Linked DNA regions of Homo sapiens. The protein of the gene in region 2 purifies or fractionates together with the protein of the main gene of each other region. This does not show direct contact. Each region holds a gene or a part of one and is shown on either strand. Other genes may lie near its edges. The genes, in order: TOM1L2, SRXN1, THADA, FGL1, TPM4, UNK and CCDC102A.

The links.
Region 1: the proteins of SRXN1 (region 2) and TOM1L2 fractionate together in Homo sapiens (co-fractionation; one large-scale study listed by BioGRID). This does not show direct contact.
Region 3: the proteins of SRXN1 (region 2) and THADA fractionate together in Homo sapiens (co-fractionation; one large-scale study listed by BioGRID). This does not show direct contact.
Region 4: the proteins of SRXN1 (region 2) and FGL1 purify together in Homo sapiens (co-immunoprecipitation; one large-scale study listed by IntAct). This does not show direct contact.
Region 5: the proteins of SRXN1 (region 2) and TPM4 fractionate together in Homo sapiens (co-fractionation; one large-scale study listed by BioGRID). This does not show direct contact.
Region 6: the proteins of SRXN1 (region 2) and UNK fractionate together in Homo sapiens (co-fractionation; one large-scale study listed by BioGRID). This does not show direct contact.
Region 7: the proteins of SRXN1 (region 2) and CCDC102A purify together in Homo sapiens (affinity purification with mass spectrometry; one large-scale study listed by BioGRID and IntAct). This does not show direct contact.

The regions. Positions count from the first base shown.
Region 1 is NC_000017.11:17,962,401-17,965,900, reverse strand, and holds part of TOM1L2 (TOM1-like protein 2), read left to right. Parts: intron 1-3,500. UniProt on the Homo sapiens protein: Acts as a MYO6/Myosin VI adapter protein that targets myosin VI to endocytic structures. May also play a role in recruiting clathrin to endosomes. May regulate growth factor-induced mitogenic signaling.
Region 2 is NC_000020.11:650,401-654,518, reverse strand, and holds the start of SRXN1 (sulfiredoxin-1), read left to right. Parts: upstream 1-1,318; 5' UTR 1,319-1,333; coding exon 1,334-1,543; exon of another isoform or gene 1,544-1,566; intron 1,567-4,118. UniProt on the Homo sapiens protein: Contributes to oxidative stress resistance by reducing cysteine-sulfinic acid formed under exposure to oxidants in the peroxiredoxins PRDX1, PRDX2, PRDX3 and PRDX4. Does not act on PRDX5 or PRDX6.
Region 3 is NC_000002.12:43,233,195-43,236,038, reverse strand, and holds part of THADA (tRNA (32-2'-O)-methyltransferase regulator THADA), read left to right. Parts: intron 1-2,844. UniProt on the Homo sapiens protein: Together with methyltransferase FTSJ1, methylates the 2'-O-ribose of nucleotides at position 32 of the anticodon loop of substrate tRNAs.
Region 4 is NC_000008.11:17,882,025-17,885,524, reverse strand, and holds part of FGL1 (fibrinogen-like protein 1 precursor), read left to right. Parts: coding exon 1-33; intron 34-3,345; coding exon 3,346-3,500. UniProt on the Homo sapiens protein: Immune suppressive molecule that inhibits antigen-specific T-cell activation by acting as a major ligand of LAG3. Responsible for LAG3 T-cell inhibitory function. Binds LAG3 independently from MHC class II (MHC-II).
Region 5 is NC_000019.10:16,075,187-16,079,294, reverse strand, and holds the start of TPM4 (tropomyosin alpha-4 chain), read right to left. Parts: upstream 2,801-4,108; 5' UTR 2,730-2,800; coding exon 2,598-2,729; intron 2,280-2,597; exon of another isoform or gene 2,165-2,279; intron 1-2,164. UniProt on the Homo sapiens protein: Binds to actin filaments in muscle and non-muscle cells. Plays a central role, in association with the troponin complex, in the calcium dependent regulation of vertebrate striated muscle contraction.
Region 6 is NC_000017.11:75,819,306-75,822,805, forward strand, and holds part of UNK (RING finger protein unkempt homolog), read left to right. Parts: intron 1-378; coding exon 379-480; intron 481-614; coding exon 615-803; intron 804-3,171; coding exon 3,172-3,353; intron 3,354-3,500. UniProt on the Homo sapiens protein: Sequence-specific RNA-binding protein which plays an important role in the establishment and maintenance of the early morphology of cortical neurons during embryonic development.
Region 7 is NC_000016.10:57,530,072-57,533,571, reverse strand, and holds part of CCDC102A (coiled-coil domain-containing protein 102A), read left to right. Parts: intron 1-3,500.

The DNA.
Region 1 (3,500 bases), on a different chromosome or scaffold from region 2:
GATCCACCCACCTTGGCCACCCAAAGTGCTGGGATTACAGGTGTGAGCCACCATGCCCGGCCCCGTTTTTGGGGTTTTAAAAAAAGTTTAATGTTGTATTCCTATGTGCCAGAGACTGAAGTGGGCACTTTATACATCTTGCAGTCATTCGATCCTCACAACAATGCTGTGAGGAAGGTACTGTGATTATCTCCATTTTCAGATGGGGACATTAAGACAATGAGAAAGTATGGAACCTACCTAAGGTCACACAGCTAGCAGTGAGGGAGCTATAGTCTGAATGCAGCATTCTGGCTCCAGAGCTGGTATCCTGTCACGCTGTGCTGCCCTCAGCAAGAGTAAAGTGAGGAGGAACACTGTAGGAGGGAAGGAAGAACTCAGGAAAACTCTGAGGAGGTGGTGTCTGCTGAGCAGGGCTTTGATGAATGGGGAGGATTTGGTTTGTGTAGAAATGGAAAAGGATGTTTGGTTTCTTGGCAGAGACAACTTGAGCAAATGCTGGATGTTAAGAGGTAGGCGGGGGTGATGGGATTTATTCTGTGTGCCTAGCAAAGGGGAGTGATAGGGGGTGAGACTGGGAAGGGAGGATAAGGCCTGATTGTGTGGAGGGCTTGCTTCATATGTTGGCTAAGTAGTTTGAACTATATTTTAGAGGTACTGGGGAGGCATGAAAGACTTCTAGGGAGGGGAATAGCATGGAAGCATGAATATCATTACAGAGGTAGGGAGATTTCTCCTTAGCAGTCACCAGAAGATCATTCTCTCTACCATGAAAGCCCGCTTCTGTGCAGAATTGGGGAGGGAAGGTGGGGGAAGGAGGGGGGATGTCAGCTGTGGTCAAGGGTAGGGACACTGTCTATGAAGCCCCCTCAGAAACAGAAAGGTGCCAAGGCAGGTTGATGGAGCATTGAGAAGAAGTCTAGTCTAGAGCATTTGTCCTTAATTGCCTGGACAGGTCTTAAAACCCCTGACATTGAAAGTCACGTGGGGCGTCAGCCTGCTCCTCCTCCTGCTCTGTTTATCATATGCAATGACAGGGCTGACCTATTCCCAGGGCTTTTCTAGAGGAATGCCACTGCTTAGGAGTGGGCTATCGGAATATCTAAAATTCTCATATAATTGTGCTTTTTATTTATTTATTTTTTTTGAGACAGGGTCTTGCTTTGTCGCCCAGGCTGGAATGCAGTGGCAGGATCGTAGTTAAAGCCTCAACCTACTGGGCTCAAGTGATCCTCCCGCTTCAGCCTCCCAAAGTGCTGGGATTATAGGTTTCAGCCACTGTGCCCAGCCTTTCATTGTGCTTTTTACAAAACGATGTATAACCGATAGAAAATATGAAAGATATAGAAAAAATGCAAAGGAGAAAAAAATCTCCACAATGTGCGTCCTCACAAATTTGTTGAGATGCTTATTTCACATAATGGAATACTTTTGTATTTCACTCTTCATCTTCTCATGCCTTGAAGAGGCGACATTGTAGAACAACTTTTAGCATATTTCTGTATAATCTACATTTATTTATTTATTTACTTGGGATATTAGGAAAGGAAAACGGTGTAAATACATTGCCCAGAGGAGCATCAGTTAGGGGTTGTTGCTCTTGACCTAGCAGATAAATCACCCAGAAATGTTGCGCTAACCTAGTAGTCTGAGAAGATATAAATAACATTCAGGCTTTTCCTGCTGACCCGGCTTGTTGAGGTTAAAAGAGGCGACTTTTAAAACCAGTCTCAGACTTGGTTACATATGTTATTGCTCCCTCCAACCTTCTTGATTTAGGAGATTCTCTGCTTTTCTCCATTCAGTCATCAAGCCTGATGCCCATCAGCCCTCACCTCTTCCTACAGGCAGCCTTCCTAGACCACCCTGTTTATGGTGATGAATCTCTTCTCTGAGCTCACAGTGCTTGCTATCCATATCATTCATTTGGCTCTTCTCTTATCTATAAAACAGAAAATATTACTTGTCCTCCAGGTTTTTGTGACGATTAAATGAGATAATGTGCTTAAAATCCCTAGCACGGTGTCCTGCAATCAACTAATATAGACTTCTTGATTCCTTCCCTCCACTGTTACTGTTGTTATTTATCTTGTGTTATTTATCATGTGTTTATTGCCATACCTTCTGAATAAGGCTGGAGGCTCCTCTACTTTCTGTTTCCTTGTGACCTTCACAGCACATGGTAGAGTATATTCTTCATAGTTATTCACTCTTTTTGTCACTGGTATTTAGCATCTTTGAAAGCTAACATTACTAGCCATCATTTCCTGGCCCCTCACCATGTGCCAGGCACCTTGCTGAGTGCTGTGCATACTTATCTCATTTAAAAATTTTTTTCTCTGGAAGCACTGTTATCTTCATCTTACAGGTGAAGAAATAGAGACTTAAAGGGGTTCAGAAACTTGCCCAAGGTTTCCTGGCTCAAGTAGGCGGAGCGGTCCTCTCCAGCCAGGGGCTCTAGCTCCAGCGTTTTTCTTTGTTCATGTTGCCTTTTAGACATCAAGCATGGTCTGTTTCCATTTGGACAAGAAGGAGCCTAAACTGATTTCAAATAGGAATTCCAGAAAGATAGCATAGTTCCACCAATAGGAATGTGGATTCCCATTGCTCTCTCTTTGTTCTCTTCCAGCACTTAGCACTCTTTGTTCTAGATTGGAGTCAGTCCCATCTTTGCTTCTCGATGCGACTGCTTTTGTATGAGTCCAGTAACTGTGCTAAAACTCAGTTTCCCAATCTGTAAACTGTGGTGGTGAAGGGAGTACAAGAACACTTGCACCATCACATCTTACAGGGGTCAAGTGAGTATGTAAAAGCAAAATGTGTTGTTATGTTTTACATCATTTAGACTAAATGTTCCATGAGGGCACCTGTTTCTATTTATTCTTTAAAAAAAAAACCTGATAAAATATATATAACAAAATTTACATTTTTTTTTTTTTTGAGACGGAGTCTCACTCTGTTGCCCAGGCTGGAGTGCAGTGGCACGACCTCGGCTCATTGCAACCTCTGCCTCCCAGGTTCAAGCGATTCTCCTGCCTCAGCCTCCCAAGTAGCTGGGACTACAGGCACGCGCCACCACGCCCAGCTAAATTTTTTGCAATTTTAGTAGAGATAGGGTTTCACCATGTTGGCCAGGTTGGTCTCGATCTCTTGACCTTGTGATTCCACCCACCTCAGCCTCCCAAAGTGCTGAGATTACAGGCGTGAGCCACCACACCAGGCCCAAAATTTACAATTTTAACTGGTTTTAAGTGTGCAGTTCAATGGCATTAAATATATTCACATTGGGCCAGTCGCGGTGGCTCATGCCTTTAATCCTAGCACTTTGGGAGGCCGAGGCGGGTGGATTGCCTGAGCTCAGGAGTTCGAGACCAGCCTGCGCAACACGGTGAAACCCTGTCTCTACTAAAATACAAAAAAATTAGCCGGGCATGGCAGTGTGCGCCTGTAGTCCCAGGTACTCGGGAGGCTGAAGCAGGAGAATTGCTAGAGGAGGAGGT
Region 2 (4,118 bases):
GGTGCGCACGGGAATTATGTTTCGAAAGGGAAAGGCTGGAGTCTTGGTGTCAGTGTTCTAAGGTTTTGTGAGAGACTAAGAACCCAAAATAAATGATCTTCAACAGCAAAATGGATGTTATGCAATTCACAGAGCACTATGAGCACTCTCTCAATTCACACAACTTTGAGTGATGGGCAGCATGACTTCATTTTACAGACGGGGTTCAGAAAGTGTCAGCAACTGGTGGAAGGCAAAGTAGAAACTCCTGGCTCCCTCCTTCGTCTCCAGTTTTCTCCAGCTGGCAGGGTAAGTATGCATTTCTCCATGTTCGTGCCATTCAGGTTGAGAAGGAAGACAAGCAAACCAGACATGCTTGTCTTCGACCGAGTCTGGGATCGTCCACCTTCCTGCTTGGAGTTGGTGGTTAAGTGGCCCCACAGTTTGGACTCGTGTGACCTGACTTTCATTTCAGCTGACCTTGAACAGCGGGTCTATAACTGCACCTACTTCCAGTAGTGTTGTAATGACACAAACAGACAGTGTGGAACTTGAAGGCAGGGCCCACCCATTGTCAGCGCGACTCCTGAGGGCTCCGTGTGACAGTCACTGTTGCTGAACCAAGGCAGCCAACGGTGGGGTAGAAGGCGGACTCTGGAGCCAGACCGTCTGGATTTGAACGCGGATTCGGCCACTTACTAGTTCCGTGATCTTGGGTACATCACTTAAACCTGTGTCTCAGTCTCCTCTTCTGTAAAATGGGAATAACAGTCATACCTTCCTTGCAGGGTTGTTTTGAGGTTCAGATACGTTAATACACGTGCAAAATGTTCGGAACGACTCCAGACACAGCCGGCGCCAGACTGGAAGTGGAACCGCTGGTGGGGATCATAACCTCGCTGGCTAGGAACCCCAGCAGCGGGGCAGCAGCGCACCGCGGGCTTTGCCGACTCACCCTGGCTGGGCAGGTCCGCCGCGCTCTCCCCCGCCCCCGCCCCCGCGGCCTAAGTCGGCCCGGCCGGTGCGTCACCCGCGCCCCTCCCGCCCCGCGACCTGCAAACTCACCCTGAGTCAGCCCGCCCGGGCGTTTCCACTCCCCGGACGCCGCGCGGCGCAGGGGAGGCGAGAGGCGCCCCCCGGTGGAGAGCCTGAGCCCCGCGCGAGTCTGGCGGCACCTGGCGAGCGGAGCCGGAGTCGGGCTGGGGACCGCGGGGTCGAGGCCGGACCGCGGCGGGGTCGGGGGAGAAACGCGCGCTGCCCTGGCACGGGCCCCCCCCCCCGGCCGCGCGGAATGGTATGGCCCGGCCGGAGTTAAGGCCGGGGGGAGGCGGCGAGTCCCGCGGCGGCGGCGACGATGGGGCTGCGTGCAGGAGGAACGCTGGGCAGGGCCGGCGCGGGTCGGGGGGCGCCCGAGGGGCCCGGGCCGAGCGGCGGCGCGCAGGGCGGCAGCATCCACTCGGGCCGCATCGCCGCGGTGCACAACGTGCCGCTGAGCGTGCTCATCCGGCCGCTGCCGTCCGTGTTGGACCCCGCCAAGGTGCAGAGCCTCGTGGACACGATCCGGGTGAGGCCTCGGGGAGTCCAGCCAACCGGAGGGAGGGCTTCGGAGGAGGGAGGTTGCCGGAGGAGGGAGGTCGCTGCGATGGACGCGAGACGGACTGGTTCCGGGCCCAGCCGGAGCTCAGCCTCTGCTGTGTGACCTTGAGCAAGTAGCTGGGCCTCTCTGGGCCTCTGTTTCCTCACTTGAGCAAGGAGGGAATTGGGCGAGATAATTAAAGTAGTGATGATAACGCTTATAACGCTAGTGCTTGCAGTGGTCCAGGAACTGCAGGAAGTCCCTCAGTTTCCTATGCCAACCCTAGGAGGTAGATAGTGGCTCTTTTGCAGACGAGAACTGAGGCAGGGAAGATTTCAGCGGCTTGACTAAGATCAGGCGCTTAAAAAGTGACACGGCTGGAATTCACACCCAGGCAGCCTGGGCCCCACTGCCCAGCACATGGCCACCGCACTACCCGGAGATAAGCCGTGGGCTCTCATGGCTGTGACAGTCAGTGACAGTGGGACTAGGTGTGTCATATCTGCTGGGAGGCCCTTGTCTGAATGGGAAGTGGGAGAGGTCAAGGGTCAGCTCCACCACTGAGGAAGGGTGTTAAGAATACCGGAGTGATTCTGGCAGGAACTTGGGGGCCCCGCAAGAACAGGTGTCAGGTTAGGCCTACATAACGTTGTGTCCCCTTCCCCCGACCCTTGGAAGGTGAGCACATGAGATCCCTAAGCCCCACCCAGCACCTCTACAGCCACCCCCGATAACTTTCAGTCCTAGTATTTACACTAGTGTCCTCACTGCCTGGAGCCACTTCCCCAGACAACCACAGGGCCTGCTCCCCTGCCTGGTTCAGCTCTCTGCCTCCTTGATCACCCTTGGTCAGAGTCACTGGCCTCTCTAGCTCTCCCCTTAGCCCGAGATGTTTTTCAGGATACCACTTATGTCCACCAGAAATTATATTATACATCTATTTGTGTTGCATTTTATTTTCTGTCTTCCTGACCTCACGTGCACTCCACAAGGGCGAGGACCTCGTCCCATCTTATCTGTTGCCACAATAGTAGCACGGCGCCTGGCTGAGATGGGAAGGGATCTGCCATGCATGCCCTGTCCCACCACTGGGCTTTTTCTCCCGTTGAGAACCTCTTCTATCTCTGCCTTGTCGTTTCTCACTCTTTCTCGGTCTTCCTGTCTCAGTGTCAGGATCTTCCCTGACCATCCCTACCGGGTTAGGAGCTTCTGTGGGCCTGCAGCCACCTGTGTGCCCACCTGCATAGCTCTGATCTCACTGGCTTTTTTTTTTTTTTTTTAAGACGTTGTCTGGGTCTGTCACCCTGGCTGGAGTGCAGTGGCACGATCTTGGCTCACTGCAACCTCCGCCTCCCGGGTTCAAGCCATTCTCCTGCCTCAGCCTCCCAAGTAGCTGGGATTACAGGCGCCCACCACCACGCCTGGCTAATTTTTGTATTTTTAGTAGAGATGGGGTTTCACCCTGTTGGCCAGGCTGGTCTGAAACTCCAGACCTCAAGCGATCTGCCCACCTCGGCCTCCCAAAGTGCTGGGATTACAGCCCACTGGCTTTTAACGTCCTGTCTAGACACCTGCCTTCCGTGCTAGAACCGTAGGCTCTGAGGGCCAGAACCAGCTCTGCCTTTGCTTACATACACCTGTATTAGTTTTCTGGGGCCACTGTAAGTTACCACAAAGTTGATGGCTTAAAACAACACAGGTTTATTTATGGTCAGAAGTCCAAAATGGGTCTTACTGGGCTAACACCAAGCAGGGCTGCACTACTTTCTGTAGGCTCTAGGGGAGAATCCATTTCCTCGCCTTTCCCAGCTTCCAGACGCCACCCACACTGCTTGGCTTATGGCCTCTTCCTCTGTCTTCAAAGCCAGCAACATCAGGCCAAGGCCTTCTCACATCGCATCACTCTGACCTCTTCCTCTACTTCCTCTTCCAGTTTTAAGGACCCTGATAATGGCATTCGACCCATCTAGATAACCTTGGATAATTTCCGCATCTCAGGATCCTTACCTTAATTCTGTCTGCCAAGTCCCTTCTCCCATGTAAGGTAACACATTCAGAAGCATTCGGGCGTGGACATCTTTGGGAGCCATCATTCTGGCCATCCACCATCGTGCCTCCAGTACCCGGCACAAGGCCTGCCTGGCACGGCTGCCCTCCTTAGTGCTCCACTAATGCCCGGTAGGCATCAGCTCACTGACTCTTCATCAGCAGCCCTCTAGGATGTTTTATTCCCAGTTTACAGGTGAGGAATGGTGTTCAGAGGGCTGTGTGCCCCAGCTGCTGTGGAGAGGAGCTGAGATCCAAAGTCAGGTGTGCCAGGTTCCAGAGCTCAGGCTTGTGACTGCTGCACCTTACTGCTGAATAATCATTTGTGGAATCATGAGAGAGAACCCGTGGACCAGCAGCAGGAGGCCTTCCACGCCGCTCACACTTAATGGGGTCTCCCCAGAGTGCTCTACCCTGCACCCGTCCTGCCCCAGACTTTCCCTGTTTAGAGGATGACCTACTCTCCACCTGGCTGTGTGGGCCCCTAACAGGAAGTCAACTTAGATTCTCCCTTTTC
Region 3 (2,844 bases), on a different chromosome or scaffold from region 2:
AGGAGATCGAGACCATCATGGCTAACACGGTGAAACCCCGTCTCTATTAAAAATTCAAAAAAAATTTAGCCGGGCGTGGTGGCGGGTGCCTGTAATCCCAGCTACTCGGGAGGCTGAGGCAGGAGAATGGCATGAACCCGGGAGACGGAGCTTGCAGTGAGCCGAGATCCCGCCACTGCACTCCAGCCTGGGCGACAGAGCGAGACTCTGTCTCAAAAAAAAAAAATGGTGCAGGATAGAGGCTACCTGTCCTGTCAGGTGGGGCTAGTGCAGCAGCCTAGCCTTCCTTGGTGGCATCTCTGGTCACCCCCATAGGTTCTTTATGGACTCAACAGGAATGTCACTTGAGCTGCAGATACTGATTTTGCTGATGGATGATGAAATTTTTTTCTTCCCTGTTGGGCTTTCAGTCCTTGCCTTAAGGAGACCATAAAAAAAGTGGTGGGAGGCCAGGTACAGTGGCTCATGGGTGTAATCCCAGCACTTTGGGAAGCCGAGGGGGCAGATCACTTGAGGTCAGGAGTTCGAGATCAGCCTGACTAACATGGAGAAACCCCGTCTCTACTAAAAATACAAAATTAGCCGGGTGTGGTGGCGCATGCCTGTAATCCCAGCTACTTGGGAGGCTGAGGCAGGAGAATCTCTTAAACCTGGGAAGCGGAGGTCGCGGTGAGCCGAGATGGTGCCACTGCACTCCAGCCTGGGCAACAAGAGCGAAACTCTGTCTCAAGACAAAACAACAACAACAAAAAAGTGATAAGCTGGGCACAGTGGTTCATGCCTGTAATCCCAGCGCATTGGAAGGCTGAGGCGGGTGAATCACTTGAGGTCAGGAGTTCAAGACTAGCCTGGCCAACATGGTGAAACCCCATCTCTACTAAAAATACAAAAATTAGCCAGCCATGGTGGCAGGAGCCTGTAATCCCAGTTACTCAGGAGGCCGAGGCAGGAGAATCGCTTGAACCCGGGAGGTGGAGGTTGCAGTGAGCTGAGATCACGCCACTGCACACAAGCCTGGGCAATACAGCAAGACTCAGTCTGAGAAAAAAAAAAAGAGTGATAAACCCACTGGGTGCAGCGGCTCATACCTGTAATCCCAGCACTTTGGAAGGCTGAGGTGGGTAGATCACTTGAGGTCAGGAGTTTGAGACCAGCCGGGCCAACATGGTGAAACCCAGTCTCTACAAAAAATACAAAAATTAGCTGGGCAAAAACAAAATTATCTGGGTGTGGTGGCACATGCCTATAGTCCCAGCTACTTGGGGGCTAAGGCAGGAGAATTGCTTGAACCCAGGAGGCGGAGGTTGCAGTGAGCCAAGATCACGCCACTGTACTCCAGCCTGGGCAACAGACTCTGTCTCAATCAATCAATAAAAGTTGAAGGGAAAAAAGAAAGAAAAAGGCCACTTAATTATCCCTTCTCTATACAGATTCTCAGCCAATTGAGAACTGCAGAAAGGAGTTAGGTAGAGGTAAAAATGGAGATTGTATTGTAGGTAGAGGCCCAGTCAACACATGGCTCAGACCCACAGCCAAAATGCACCTTCACCCCCTCCCCTTTTCTGTTTCCTGGTTTAAATCTGGGTTCTAGGCTGCAGAGCAAGCAGCATGGGGAACGGGGACACTAAAGGGCAAGTGTCCTGGGGGACTTATCTGGAGCTCTCAAGATGGTGAGATCAGTACTTTCACCTGCTTACATGCAACTAGGTGCTGCTGTGTGACCTCTGAATAGTCCTGGCCCTACTGCAGGGTCACTACCCCTGCTGACCCCACCATCAAAACCTCTGGATTGTTGATGCTGGGTCTCCAAATCTGCGCTTTGCATGCACCATGAAACTTGTTGCCAACTGTAATTTCTTGATGTGTGCAAGTGGGTTACATAATACCCAACCCATAGGATGCTAGAAGGACTGGGGAGACAGCATTTGATCAGGGCCTGGCACTCACTAGGCCCTCAGTGGGGCCATCCCAGTAAGCCTGGTTCAACACCCACGGGAACTAAGCCTGCTGTTGCAGATTCTCGGTCGTCTGCCTGTGTGCCGAGTAAGTCTTTCGGGGGCCAGATGGTCAGGGTAAGTCTGTGTGCTCAAGTTAGAGATGTGGATTTGGGAGTGATCAGGGCTCAATAGAAATGCATCATTGAAAGACAGGCCTTTCAATGTCAGTTGGTGCAAGATGGGCCTACAGAGGTCCATTGTGCAGTGGGCTTTCAGTCCCGTGTTTCAGACACCCTCCAGGTTTGGGATGGGAGGGGCAGAGTTGTTAGGGGAAGTGACAACACCCCTGAGCCTCCCTCCAAACCCATATTTAGGATTGTCTAAGGCCAAATGTTGAAATAAGCAATGGTTTCCCCAAGGCCCCCTGCTTCCTCTTTCTGCACCCTTCTATTCTTTCAGTGCCCTTCCTCCAAGCACCCAGGAAAACAAGGGTCCAAAAACAAAAAACTCCGAGACAGAGGGCAGCAAAATAGGAGCCAAATGCAGCCTACCACCTGCTTTTTACAGCCCATGAGCTATCAATGGTTTTTACATTTTTAATTGGTTGGGAAAAAATAATATTTTGTGACACATTAAATTCAAATTTCAGTGTCCATAAATAAAGTTTTATTGGAACACAGCCACAACCATTTGTTTACAGATTGTCCATGGCTGCTTTCAGCCGAGGTGAGGAGGTATAGGCTTGCAAAGTCTAAAATATTGACTCTCTGGCCCTTTAAGGAAAAGCTTGCCGATGCCCTGCTCTAGGATGTGTCTTGTGCCCAAGAGATCTGCTTTCCAAGGAAAGGGCAAACCAGTCAAATCCAGGCAGATGTGCAGAGGAGACACTGGACAGGGAAGCCTTCCT
Region 4 (3,500 bases), on a different chromosome or scaffold from region 2:
ACCACCGCTCTGACAATGGGCAGGGAAATTTCGGTAAGCTTCTTGGGAAAACTATTGTCATATTTATAATGCCTGCTTTTATCTGAATTTTCTTTCATTTTGCATTAAACCTATAGTGACTTGTCATTGAAAAAACTTAACTATGTGGGAAAAGCAAAGAGGCTGGTAGAAATACTGGACACATAGTAAAGCAGCACTTTAAAGCGCTTTACATTTTTGCAGGGGAGGCCGAGATGGGTGGATCACAAGGTCAGGAGTTCGCAACCAGCCTGGCCAATATGGTGAAACCCCATCTTTACTAAAAAAAATACAAAAAATTAGCCGGGCGTGATGGCACGCATCTGTAGTCCTAGCTACTCGTGAGGCTGAGGCAGGAGAATCCCTTGAACCCAGGAGGCGGAGATTGCAGTGAACTGAGATCATGCCACTTCACTCCAGCCTGGGCGACAGAGTGAGACTCCATCTCAAAAAAAAAAAAAGTGCTTTACATTTTTTTAAATAAAAAGTATTCATAATAAATAAGTAATTTTTAAAAATTCACTGGAGTTATTTGGTTGGAATATTAGAAATTTGAAACTGTCCATAGTAATTAAAATTAACCTTGAGCTTTTCAATATTGAAAAGTGTAAAACTAACCAGATTATTTGAAAGTAATTACATCGAACTTGTGTTGTCCTTCATTTGTGAATAAAAAAGACAAAACATTCATTCAAAGTTCTTGGAGAAAGAAAACTCCTAGGTTTTAAATAAGCTTACTAAATATGCGTATGCAATCTCATAAAGATTGGGCATACTTGACCTGTGATGTCTTCAATTATTTTAAAATTGCATAGTGCACTATGTTTAACAATATCACAACCGATCCCCCACTGTTGTAAAACAACTCAGGACCCAGACACCATAAAATGTTCTTGCTGTTCATTTTTTAGCCTATGTGACTCAAGGTGCTAAGCAAATAACTATCTCAGAAGGGATAAATCTGAGTGTTAGGGATAGAGTAACAAGAACAAATAAGAAGTAATCCTAGAGAGGCCTGGTGCAGTGGCTCACGCCTGTAATCCCAGCACTTTGAGGGGCCGAGGTGGGTGGATCGCTTGAAGCCAGAAGTTTGAGACCAGACTGGGCAACATGGCAAAACCCCATCTCTACTAAAAATACAAAAATTAGCTGGGTGTTATGGCACACAACCTGTATAGTCCCAGCTACTTGCCAGGATGAAGCACAAGAATCGCTTGAACCAGAGAGGCAGAGGTTGCAGGGAGCCGAGATCGCACCACTGCACTCCAGCCTGGGCAACAGAGCAAGACTCTGTTGAAAGAAAGAGAGAGAGAGAGAGAAGGAATCATCCTAGAAAAATGGCTGGGAGAGGTTCTGTGACTTGGACCTAGGGATGGGAAGAAAGGAAAGAAAGAAAAGAAAAGAAGGAAGGGAGGGAGGGAGGGAAGGAGAAAGAAAGGAAAAGAACAAAAGAAAAGAAAAAGAAGAGGAGAAAGAAATCATTTTAGAAAAATGGCTGGGAGAGGTTCTGTGACTTGGACCTAGGGATGGGAAGAAAGGAAAGAAAAGAAAGGAAGGAAGGAAGGGAGGGAAGGAGGGAAGGAGAAAGAGAGGAAAAGAACAAAAGAAAAGAAAAAGAAAAGAGGAGAAAGAAATCATCCTAGAAAAGATATCTGGGAGAGGTTCTGAGAAAGGAAACGTAAGGGAAGAGGAAGGGAAAGGGGAAGGGGAAGGAAAAGGGAGAAACCATCCTAGAAAAATGGCTGGGAGAGGTTCCATGACTTGGACCTAGAGATGGGAGGGAGGGGAGATGTACTACATATATATATATATAAAAAATATATATATATTATAGACTATATAAATATAAATGTATTATATATGCATATGTATTTGATATAATATATACTATATAAATCCATTATGTAATTTTATATATACGTATATTATGTATAAATATAATATATTATATAAAGTAGACTATAATATAATAAATACAATTATATTACATTATATTATATATAAATATATTTAATATATTATATATTATTTATATTTATATATTATATAATATCTATTCATTTATATTCATATATATTCATATTATATATTTTGTAATATATATTATATATTATTATTATATTGTATATTATTTTATATATTATATATTATTATTATATTATATATTATTTAATATATTATATATTATTATATGTTATTTAATATATTATATATGATATATATGATATATTATTTAATATATTATATATGATATATATTATATATTATTTAATATATTATATATGATATATATTATATATTATTTAATATATTATATATGATATATATTATATATTATTTAATATATTATATATGATATATATTATATATTATTTAATATATTATATATGATATATATTATTTAATATATTACATATGATATATATTATATATTTAATATATTACATATGATATATATTATATATTTAATATATTACATATGATATATATTATATATTTAATATATTACATATGATATATATTATATATTTAATATATTATATATGATATATATTATATATTATTTAATATATTATATATGAGATATATTATATATTATTTAATATATTATATATGAGATATATTATATATTATTTAATATATTATATATGATATATATTATATATTATTTAATATATTATATATGATATATTATATATTGTTTAATATATTATATACTATATATTATATATTGTTTAATATATTATATATTATATATATTATATATTATTTATATGCATATATAATATATATAATATATAATATACATTAAATATACATATTTAAAAGTATTTATACCAGACAGCCATTCAAAAACCTCATTTATTATGGAGATTTACATGCCAACAGTACAATTAACTTCTATAAACCACATTACTGTTTAGAAAACACATAAGCAATGTCATATAGAGATTGAGAGCACAGTCCTTGAACTGAATTTGAATCCCACCTCCGCTTACCCACTGGGCATCAAGACTGAGCCCTTTCCTACCGCATGGAATTGTTATGAGGATCAAAGGAGACAACTATAAAGCTCCTAGCATAGCGATTCCAATTATTTTATATTATTTGATCTTTTGAGTCCAGGAGTTTTCGCATAAGCCATAATTTCCAATTCTTCAAATAGTAGGCAGTATTAGAACTTTTCAAGCCACTTTCTCTTTGGAATAATATTCTGAAATGGGAACTGGAGACAAAATGGAATCACTGATTTATCCAAATGTTTAAAAAGCACTTGTTTTCCATGAAAATGAGGTGCATACTCATCTCATCTCACCTGTTTTGCAGGCGCTCGAGGACTGTGCCCAGGAGCAGATGCGGCTCAGAGCCCAGGTGCGCCTGCTTGAGACCCGGGTCAAACAGCAACAGGTCAAGATCAAGCAGCTTTTGCAGGAGAATGAAGTCCAGTTCCTTGATAAAGGAGATGAGAATACTGTCATTGA
Region 5 (4,108 bases), on a different chromosome or scaffold from region 2:
AAAAACTGTGTACCCATTAGCAGTCGAGGAATTGATTTTAAAGATCAAACAGAGGTGCTTGATTCATGAGTTGTCTTTTAAGAAGTGAGTAGCCCTTATGTGGGAAATTCTGAATCCTGGCAAACAACGCTTTTGGCAGATTTTCAGCTGTCTGGAGTTGGGAGATACACGCATATCTGTACATGCATACATATATATGTATTTTTGAAAAACTGCTAGTCACGGCCGAGTCATTTTGGGTTCCACCCCTTCCTGCAATCAAAGCCTTCCACACGCTACAAAGGATTTCCCTTATAAGGTAAAAGAGGCTTGCTAGATACATGTGGCAAAGGAACAGGAAGATGTCAGTTAATCACACAAAAATCTAAACGAAACCAGCTGTCGGGAAACAGGCCCAGAAGTCTACCACACGCCGGCTCCTGGCTTATTCTACAAGAGTGAAAGGTTTTTTTTTTTTTTTTTTTAACCCACCCCTGGTCTTAGTTCCTTTTGCCCTGGGAGAGGTTTTCCCTCTCCCAGACGGAAAGAAGCATCCTTTGCTTTTTCAAGAACTTTTCGAACTTTTTCAAGAAGTCTTCAACTCTCCAAAAACATCTTCTCTCCCAACTAGACGGTCTTGCTCCTAAATCTTGGCTCCAGGCTGAGGGCCATTTTGAAGCCGAGTTAATTGTCCTCCAGCGAGATGACTTGGGATGAGATCAGAGCAAGAGCTGTGTCGGTTAAGTGTGAGAAAGAGGCCAGACCGGCTACCGATTGAGGCTTACACCGGGTTTCTAAGGCCTCTTGGGCCAAAGCAGCCCTTACAGGATTAGAGGCTTCAACCAAGGCCCATGCTGCAGCCCCCATCTGGGCTCTTTCCAGTCCTGGCAATTCACACCACCAATTCCATCTGGCTGGGCATCTTTTGCCTCTCTAGGGTCCCCACCCTGAGCCTCAACACTGAACTTTCAGGGCTTTTGGGCTTCAACCTCTATCCGCACACCCCCCCACCCTCATCATACAACTTTCTTGCCTCTGAGTCTGTGCACACCCATGTCTCTGGTCCCAGCAAACTTATTTATTCTATAAGACCCAGCTCAACCTCCATTTTGGAGCCTCCCCTGTCATGCTCCCATAACTGCACAGAAAACCCGTGGAATGCAGACCTCGCTCCATCAGTGAGTCAGCTCCCCTGCCTCCATTTGTCTATGAGCTCTTCCCAGGGCAGAGAAAACACAATTGAGGCTGGGCGCCGTGGCTCACGCTTGTAATCCCAGAACTTTGGGAGGCCAAGGTGGGCAGATCACGAGGTCAGGAGTTCGAGACCAGCCTGGCCAGCATGGTGAGACACTGTCTCTACTAAAAATCCAAAATAAAAAAAAAAAAATTAGCTGGGCGTGGTGGCGGGCACCTGTAATCCCAGCTACTCGGGAGGCTGAAGCAGGAGAATCTCTTGAACTCGGGGGGTGGAGGTTGCAGCGAGCCGAGATCGCACCACTGCACTCCAGCCTGGGCGACAGAGTGAGACTGCCTCAAAAACAAAACAACAAAAAACAACAACACAATTGATTATTTACAAAGCGCCAGGCTCCACGCCTGAGATTTACTCCTGGGACCCTCCCTGCTACTCTGGGGGGTCGGGATTCTTATCAGTCCTACTCGCAGATGGGAAAAAAGCTCCTAGAGAGCAAATACCAAGTCATGAAGCCTGTGGGTGGCATGATATGGGACCAGAATCCAAATCTGTCCCCAGACCCTGGCGGTGCCACCATCTGTCCCGAGGGACAGCCAGGAGGATGATGCAGAGAGGATGGTGAAACTCCCTCCTTTTTCAGACCCATTGTTTATCTCGGGCCCTGCGACTCGCGGCGGAGGCGCACAGCAGGCGCTCAAACGATCGTGGGTTCAGGGCCCCGCGCCAGCGTTCCCGGGGCCTTCTGGAGAGAGGCAGGGTCCCGCCGCCCCGGTTCCCGCAGGAATCAGCTGGAGAAAGGCGGGCGGCTTGGGGCTGAACTTCCTCCACCCCCCATCCCCCCCGCCGCCTGGAGCAGACACGTCGCCGCCGCGCCCCTGGGAACGGTCAGGGAAGCAAGCAGAAGCCGGGAAGCCGCGAAAGAGGCGAGAAAGTGCGACCCCCTCCCCAGATCCCCGGTCCCCCGTCGAAATCCCTGTCGGCCGGTCAAACCCTAGACAATGGAAGCTCCACGTTTTCATCCTCATTCTCCCCCACAAGTCCGGTCGCGGGTTCCCCTCGGCCCGGGACCCCGGCGCCAGCCCCGGAGTCGGAGCCTGCACGATACGCCCCCTCCCGCCGCTCCACTTCTCCACCCGGAGATCGCTCACCCCCTCCGCCCCATCCCCCCATTTCCCGCTTGGCCGGCCCCGCCCGACCCGGAGGCGGCGCCCCCTCCCCTGTCCCAGGCCCAGGAAGGAGGACGGCGGAGGAAGTAGGGGGTCCTGGCTGCGGGCGCAGGGATGTGGGTCGGCGATCGGCGTCCGAGGGCGTAAAAAGGCGGCCCGAGGACTGCGCGCGGGCGGGCAGCGCGGGAAGCCGGGAAGAAAGGAGGGCGCGCGGGGGAGGAGGCTGCGGGTGCGGGGCCCGAGGCCGGGGCGCTCACTTTCTCGCGCCGCTCGCGCTCGCCGTCCAGCTCCCGCTGCAGGCCCTGCGCGCGGTCTTCCGCCTCGTCCGCCTGCTGCTGCAGGGCCTGGATCTTGCGTTTCACCGCCTCCAGGGAGTTGAGGCCGGCCATGGCGCGGAGGCGCAGAGGCGCACGGGCAGCGGCGGACGCTCGGCTGGGCTCGGCTCCGGCGAGAGCTGCACAGCCGCGCCCCGGCCCCCCAAGCCTTTGCCTGCGCGGGGGCCGCCCCCGCCTCTCCCCGCCCCCCGGGCCGGCTGCCGTCGGGGCGATGAGGTCACCCGGCCGGACCGCCGACGTCAGCACCGCTGGGGGAGGGCCTGACGTCGGCACCGCTGGCCACAGCTGCTGGAAAGTGCCCCTTTTCGGGACTTATTTGGAGAAAGCGCTGGGAGGCGCCGCCTTCTCCTCCTCCTCTTCCTCCTCCCCCTGCGGCTCTCCCCGCCTTCCCGGCCCCGGGGCTCCGGCCTGGCCCCGCCGCGGGCTCCCGCATCCCTGCACACGTACGTCGGAGGCCTTCTTCTCCGTGAGCTCCAGCTTCTCCTGCGCGTCCTTCAGGTCCTCGGAATATTTATCCAGCTCGTCCTCTGTCCCTTTTAGTTTCTTCTGGAGGTGCGTCAGCTCCTCCTCCACCTGGGGACGACAGAGCGAGGAACGGGTCAGCCTGGGGGGGGGGTCACGTCCCCGAGGTGCAGGGGCGGTCCCCCCCAATATTCACAAGAGTCCTCCGTCTCTCTCTGGGCATCAGTTTCCTTATCTGTAGAACAGGGGTTGCGATAGCATGCACCACGCCATCCATGCTACCTGATAGTGGGATTTTCACATCTTTCCCTCGTCCTGAGGACCAGCTGTTTTGGGCTTATTGGGGTCCCCAGTACTCTAGGGAGATCAATGGCAGCTTTTGGGAAACTGAAGACTCCAAATGTTTTCCAGAAATACACACATTCCAGTTTCAGAGGTGCAGCCTCACCATGATCTGGAGTTAAGCAATCTCATTCTCTGCGCGTGGATCCCTCCGCCCATCCCTGTCCCCAGCCTTTCTCCCTCTGGTTCTGACCCCAACACGGGGTCAGAGAAACTTTCTAACAAATACGCCTGCCCTCTTTCTGCCTAGAACCTGCTATGGCTCCCTATGGCCCAAGGCAGTGGTTCTTAGACTGTCTTACCAAAATACTCTGAAGGGCTGAAGGGCTCAGACCTAGTCCCTCATTTCTGGGCTTTGGGGAGCTTGGCTAGAAGAGACTCGCCCCTACAGGATCACTTTCTTTGAAGGCTCGGGTTAAATCTTTAAAATTTTTGCATATAGGCCATGTTCATTTTAATAAAAATGTCCCCTACTTTCCCTAAATTTTCAGTCCTCTGTTTATCCCAAGAGTCCTATCCTCCCATCACTCCTAGTTTGAGAAGCTCAGGCCTATGGATTACAAACCACAGACCCCATCACCTCTCTTTGTCACCCCCCACCACACCGGTCTAGAGTTGGCTCAAGAAGA
Region 6 (3,500 bases), on a different chromosome or scaffold from region 2:
ACCTGCTATACACCAGCCACTGAGTGCCCAGAGACCCGCCCACCCCCACTGATCCCGGGGCTGAGACCCTTGAGTTGTAACATCAGGGGACAAGACCCTTGTCCGAGGCAGGGACCCTGGATGGGGATGTGATTTCTCCTGGAAGTATCAAAGAAGATTCAGAAAGGAGAGGCATTTGGGTTGGACATGACTGGCAGACGGTGTCAGAAGTCAGGAGTCAGGATTGGCATAGGAAGCAGCTGAAGGAAGGGCACAGGGGCTTGGGAGAATACGGACCCAGCGTAGCATGGGCGTGAAGATGCAGCGTGGGCAGTAGACGAGGTGGTCAGGGTCAGATAGTCCCTCGGGAGGTCACATCCCACTCTTCTCTGTCCCTAGAGTCTGCTTTGGATGACCTGGACCTGAATGAGTTTGGCGTGGCCGCCCTGGAGAAGACTTTCGATAACAGCACAGTGCCCCACCCAGGAAGCATCACCATCGGTACTGGGTGTGGGTGGGCAGGGCAGCCTGGAGGACTCCTCGGGTTCCTGCCTGGCTCAGGCCCCTTGCTCTGTGTGGCCCGCCTGGCTTCCGCTGCCCTCACCCAGCCCGTCCTCCCCGGGCCTCTCTTGCAGGCGGCAGCTTGCTGCAGAGCTCTGCACCCGTGAACATCCCCGGCTCCTTGGGCAGCTCTGCCTCCTTCCACTCAGCATCCCCGTCCCCTCCCGTCAGCCTCTCCTCGCATTTCCTGCAGCAGCCCCAGGGCCACCTGAGTCAGTCGGAAAACACATTTTTGGGAACCTCAGCATCACATGGATCTTTGGGTAAGAGAGGGAGTGGTTCACTCAGGAGAACTGGGGCAGGAACCTGCGCCTTTAGGAGGTGCCTCTGGCCACCCCATCTACGGCATATCAGCTAGGCTGGGGGTTAGGGCAGAGGCCTTGGGCGAGGAGGCAGAGTCAGATTCCTGTCTGTGTGACCCTGGACAAGTGATTGAGCCTCTCTGCCTTAGTTTCCTCTGCTGTGAAATGGGTATAACGGCAGCATCCACCTCCTAACGTTGTGAGCATTGAATGGAGTAATGGGGCTGAAGTGCTAGGCACGAGGCCAGTGCAGGTGAGAGCAGGGGTCTCAGTTGCCAGGGCTGGGCCTGGTCTCTTTCACAGCATGGTTCTGTTCTGCCCAGTCACCCCAGGCTCCGAGAGGCTGGCTCGCACCAGCCAGGTTCACAGGGGACCAAGGGAGAAGCCAGACAGGTTAACCCCTGGCTTCGGGTGCCCTTCCTGCCGGGCAGAGGCTCCAGGGAGGCCCAGGGCTGGCCCAGAAGGCTGTTTGCCCACAGAATTAGAATGGTATGGAATGGGGGTTTCTGAGGGCACTTCAAGGTTTAGTGGCTAGAAGAATGGCACAGAGGCCTGTGCCACTGCGGGCCGGCTGTGCATCTCCTCTTGTGTGTGTCAGGGGATGTTCCTGAGGGCGGGATGGGAAGCACATGGCACCACCGCTCTCACTCTCCCCCAGCAGCTGCAGACACCAGGAGCTCCCTCCCCGAGAGTGCCAGCATTTTGCTCGGGCCCAGGGAATGAGCCCTTCAGAGTTCTGATTGGGTTTGGTGGCTTCCCTTATCTCATTCCTGATCCCAGAACAGCACATGGATTTCTCAGCGCCTTCCAGTTTGAAGAGGCTGTTCTCTGTTACGTTGATTCTGTCAGCTTTAGGTGCTTGGTGTTGCATTTTTCGGACTTGCCCCATATTCGGATAGGATCTGTTTTTTTTTTTTCGAGTAGGGTCTCAGTCTGTCACCCAGGCTGGAGTGCAGTGCAGTGGCATGATCCTAGCTCACTGCAGCCTGGAACTCCTGAGCTCAGGTAATCCTTCCACATCAGCCTCCTGAGTAGCTGGGACCACAGGCGTGCACCACCATGCCCAGCTTCTGGTGGCGTCTAGACTTAGCTCCACTTACTGGCCACACACTCCTTCCTGCACCATGTGACTATTGAGCACAGGTGTATTGATACAGGTGTAAGTGCAACAGTCCCTGCTGTCCAGCAGCTGTGGCCAGTGTGGGAAGCAGAGGTGCCCAGCCATTGGGATCCTCCTGAGAATCATAGAGGGGCCTACCTGGACAGCAGAGTCAGGAGAGCTTCTCCAAGGGAGGAGGAGAGATGGGTGGGACAGGAGAGCTTGCTGCAGGGCTGGTCTCATGTGGGTGGGGTGACCCTGAGGTCTTCCTCTGGGATGGGGCAGATGGCTCAGACAGTGCATGCCACAGGGTCTCCGCACAGGACCATGTCCCTCCTCTGTGGGTGCACTTGTGTGTCTCAGAGAGCAAAGCGTCTTAAATCTGGTTCTGGAACATCCTGGTTGGATTAGTGGGAAAGGGAGCAAGGAAGAAGTCACCAGAAAGTACATATGGGCAGAGTGAGGCCAGAGGTGGATATGGGTCCTTCTCGGAAGCCCGGGGCTGCCCTGGGGGCCAGAGCAGGGGGACCTGATGTTAGTAAACATCTGTTGAGCGAGTGAGCAGAGGGCAGCTGGGTTGGCGGTGGGTGGGAGGCTGTGCACGCAGCATAGTTGACTGGAAAGCATAGGCCTTTGGAACCACACTCCCTGTCTGTGTCCTGGCCCTACCACTTACAATTTGTGTGATTCTTGGTAAAACATTTTATCCAGGGTCCTTGTCTGTAAAACAAGGGGGATGGCCCCAAGGCTCCCTGAGCTCTTCCTGCCCCAGCTCTGCCATCCGATGAGGCTCTGGCCTGTCTTTTCCCCTTTATCTCTTCCTGGGCCTCACATCAGGCTGCAAAAAGGCCCTAGCCTAAAAGTGAAGCCACAATCATAAATTGCCACTATCGGGGGCCTGGGACTGCTCTCACATGCAGTACTTCCTGAGTCCCCTGAGTTACCCGGTGAGGCCAGTGTGGGAGTCCCATTTCCCACATGAGGGTGCTGAGCCTCGGAAGTTGAGTGGCACCAACTAGCAGGTGTCACTCAAGGTTAGGTCTGACTCCGCCCACGCCACCTGCACCTTCACAGCCTTCCTGTCCCTGCAAAATTCTCTGGCCTGACACTAGCTGGAGCCTTGCACACCCATCCAGTGGACAGCCAGTCCCTGGAACCTCTGAGGCAGGGCTGGCCAGGGCCTGGGCCCAAAGCCCTCCGGAGCTGATGTTCTTCCCCTCCTTGGGGCAGGTCTGAACGGGATGAACAGCAGCATCTGGGAGCATTTTGCCTCTGGAAGCTTCTCCCCGGGCACTTCCCCCGCTTTCCTATCAGGGCCAGGGGCTGCCGAGCTGGCCCGACTTCGGCAAGAGCTGGATGAAGCCAACAGCACCATCAAGCAGTGGGAGGAGTCCTGGAAGCAGGCCAAGCAGGTACCAGGCCCCGTGCCTGCCGGCCTTCCCCAGTGCCAGGTGGCATCCAGCCCAAGACCTTCCTTCACAGAGTGGGCGTGGGGTGGGGGAAAGCGGGGGCTGGAAGAACAGAGCAGAAACTCAGTTTTGTTCGCTCGCTCTCCCCCT
Region 7 (3,500 bases), on a different chromosome or scaffold from region 2:
GTGTGTGAGTGCAGGTCCCTGGGGGTGTGTGTGTGAGTGTGTGCATTACTGGGGCTGTGTGTGAGTGCGGGTCCCTGGGGGTGTGTGTGTGAATGTGTGCATTACTGGGGCTGTATGTGAGTGTGTGTCCCCAGGGCTGTGCTGTATGAGTGGGGCAGGGTAGGGGGAGGCGTTGCAAGGCAGGGTCTGGCTGCCCTTGGGTCTATGTGGGAGTGCAGGATTCCTGGTGTGCTGGGGGCGGGGTGGGCTTCTCCAGAAAACTCCCCTGAGGACCCCGACCCCCACCCCTTCCCACACACCCGCTCCAGGGGACCCTGGGCCTGAAGTGCAAAGGTGGGAGTGCTGTTCCAAAACTTCCGTGCTCCTGCTGTGCCCTTTCCTTCTCCCCCAGCCCCTAGGAGGGGCCTGGCCAGGCCGCTGGGAAGGAGAATGAGGTGAGTCTGGAGCCCCCATCTCTGCCTTTAGCATGGGTGCCTGGAAGCCATTAGAGACCTGGGTGGTGCCTGCCCTGGCCCTGCCCAACAGGCTTGGATTCCTGGAAGAAGCCGGTGGCCCTCTCTGGGCCAAGCCCTGTGCCAGGCCTGGCAGCTCCCAGAGGCAGGGAGGATGTGGCAGTGGCCCCCTCCCTGCCAGGCTCCTAGTTCAGCGGCTGCAAGAAGGGCCCAGCAGACAGGGCCCGGGCCCCCATACCCAGCACAGCTGCCGGCTGGCATTCGGGTTTCCTGCCTCCTCCTCCTCCTCCCCTCCCCCCACAGGCTCTCACATTGTTTTTCTTTTCCAAGAGCTTCTCTATGTGGAGCTAGGCCAGGAAAAGGAGGAGTGTGTGTGTCTGCCTCTGTGTGTGTGTGTGTGTGTGTGTGTGTGTGTGTGTGTCTGCTTCACTTGGGGATGAGCATGTCTCCTTGCATGTCCTTGTACCTGTGTGTCAGTGTGCTGGCATATGTGTGTCTTCAGGCGTGTCTGTGTCTACAGGCAAATGTCTCTCCATGCACCCGTGTCGTTGTGTGCCTGTCCGTCCATCTGAGCATATGTGTGTCTGCCCCTGGGTCTTTGCATCTGTGCATGGGATTGCATGTCTGTGTGTGCACAGATGTTTGTGAATGCACATGGGCATCAAGGCCAGCCAGCTCACTGCACAGGCGGAGAGACTGGGTCACAGAGGCACAGGCTGCTAGGGATCTCCTGGGGTGTCAGTGGTGTACATGGAACCAGAGCCTGGATCTGTATGGCTGTGTCTGGGTGCGTGACACAGATGTTATCAGGGTCGGGGTGTACATGTTGTGTTTATGGAACTGTGGGTAGTAAGAAAGCATCGCCAAATACTCAAATATCCCAGACTATTAAAATGCAAATTCCAAGCTCCACACCTAGCAAACATGACTCTCTCGGGTATAGGGCCAAGTGTCTGGGTGAATCTGAAGGACACCCTGATGAAGAAGCACTGGTCTCTCTCACACATCCCCCCTTCTACACATGGGGAAACTGAGGCCCAGAAAGGGACAGTGGCTTACATGAGGTTGGTGTCAGAGCTGGGCCTAGACCTCATGCATGGTAAAGGCAGACAGACAATAAACAAACAGCAAATGGCCTAGAGAAATGCAGCGGGGTCGCTGAGCAGCACGGAGGAACCTTGACAAAAGGTCATGAGTTTTAAAAAATACTGCTCCACGTGGTGGTGTAGACCTCCAATGCCTGGCTCCATAGTTGAAGGTAAGAGTGGGCAAAGCAGTGGAGGGAACAGGGTTGGCGTTTGCCAGGAGAAGCCAGAACAGGAGGGGCCTAGGGCACAGAGGGTGCTGGCAAGGGAGAAATTAGGAGCACAGAAGGTGAGCTGGGAAAGAGAGGGACATGGGGGTGGGCAGTGCAGTGGTGGGATCAGTGGCTTGCGGCTCCTGCTGGGATTGGAGAGTATTTGGAGTTGAGTCCTAGAGGGAGTAACCTTAGAATTGAGGCTAGGGAGGAATCAGTATTGGTAATGACACAGGGAGGGGCCATCAGAGTGGTCAGGTTCTTACAAGAACTCACTCTGGCTGTTGCTGTTGAGAATGGATTTGAAGGAGGTGAAAGTGCATGATGGGCAGGGAGGTGGGTGTGGGTACTGTTACCCAGGTGAGTGAAGGTGGTGTGGACCCTGACAGGTTAGTGACTGTGGACAAAGAAGGTGGATGGAAGGCGGATGCACAGCAGATAGACTGACAAGGTTTGGCGGTGGGTGGGGGAGGAAAGAAGGCAGATTTCAGGGTGCCTTCAAAGCTGGAAGGAGTGAGGAAGTGCCTTCTCTGGAAGGAGTGAGGAAGTGCCTTCTCTCGGAGGAGCACCCAGGAGGAGCTGGTCACGGGGGGAATGGAGGCAGCAAGTTCTATTTTAACCAAGATGAGCCTGAATCATCTATCAGGCATCCGGTTGGAGGTATGGGAAGCTCTGAGGGCAACCTGGGCTGGAGAGGGACTTGGAGTTGGGGACATAGCGAGATGGCTCGGGCAGGGATATCGTGAGAGGAGAAGGGGGCCCAGGGCCCGATGACAGCCGCATTCGAGGGATAAGCCCAGGGGGTTCACCTGGGAGGCTGACGAGCAGCTGGAGAGGAGGGGAAACCTGGAGAGGAAGACGTGGAAGCAAGTGAGGCAGGGAAGCAGGTGCCACGGTGGGTCCAGAGGGCACACCGTCACAGGGGACTGGAAACCAGCCTGGCACAGGTGGCCGGGTGACAGAGCGCCAAGCAGGTAGACGGAGTGGAGACGGCGAGTGTGGACCACTTTGGAAGGACCTTAAAAGGGAGGTGCCAGGGGAGGGGAGAAGAAGGTGTCAGGAGACACTTCAGCAGGGGTAAGACCCCTGGAAAGGACGTCACTGGCTAGGGTGGGACTGGCAGGAGGGAGGCCTTCGGCTCAAGGAAGGAGAACCCCTCTGTCCTCTCAGGGGCAGAGAGGAGGGGGCCGTGGGGCTTGACAGCTTCCTTTTTCACTGCAAATCATGACGATAGATCATCTGCCGAGAATGAGGTGGGTTAGAGATTGGAAGAAGGTGGAGAGGGGACATAGAGGGCTGCCAGGCAGCCTTGGGGACAGCCAGTGCCGAGTCCCACCGACAGTACACTGATCACTCAGAAAGGGTGGGTCTTAGGGGCAGGTGTGAAGATCTGTGGACCAGGGCTCTCTGCCTAATGGGGAAGGAAAAGTGTGATGTCCCAAGGGGCTGTTGGTGGGTGGCAGTCAACAGAGGCCGCAGTGGAGGGAGACTGGGGACAGAGAGGGACATGCCTCTCATTTATTTTAAGGAGGAGGGGGGCATGGCCCATAAATGGCAGAGCCCAGTGCTGGGCGATGGGGAGGCTGAAGTGAGACACAGAGAACAAGAGAGCTGTTTGCGGTGAGTCACGGTGTCAGGGAGGGGTGGTTCCGGCAGAGAAGGGGAGAGAACATCCTGCTGCACTCTCAGAAGCCCTTTCCATCTGAGGACTGGTTTGTTTCCATCATCATCCCCAGCGCGTGCGTTCATTC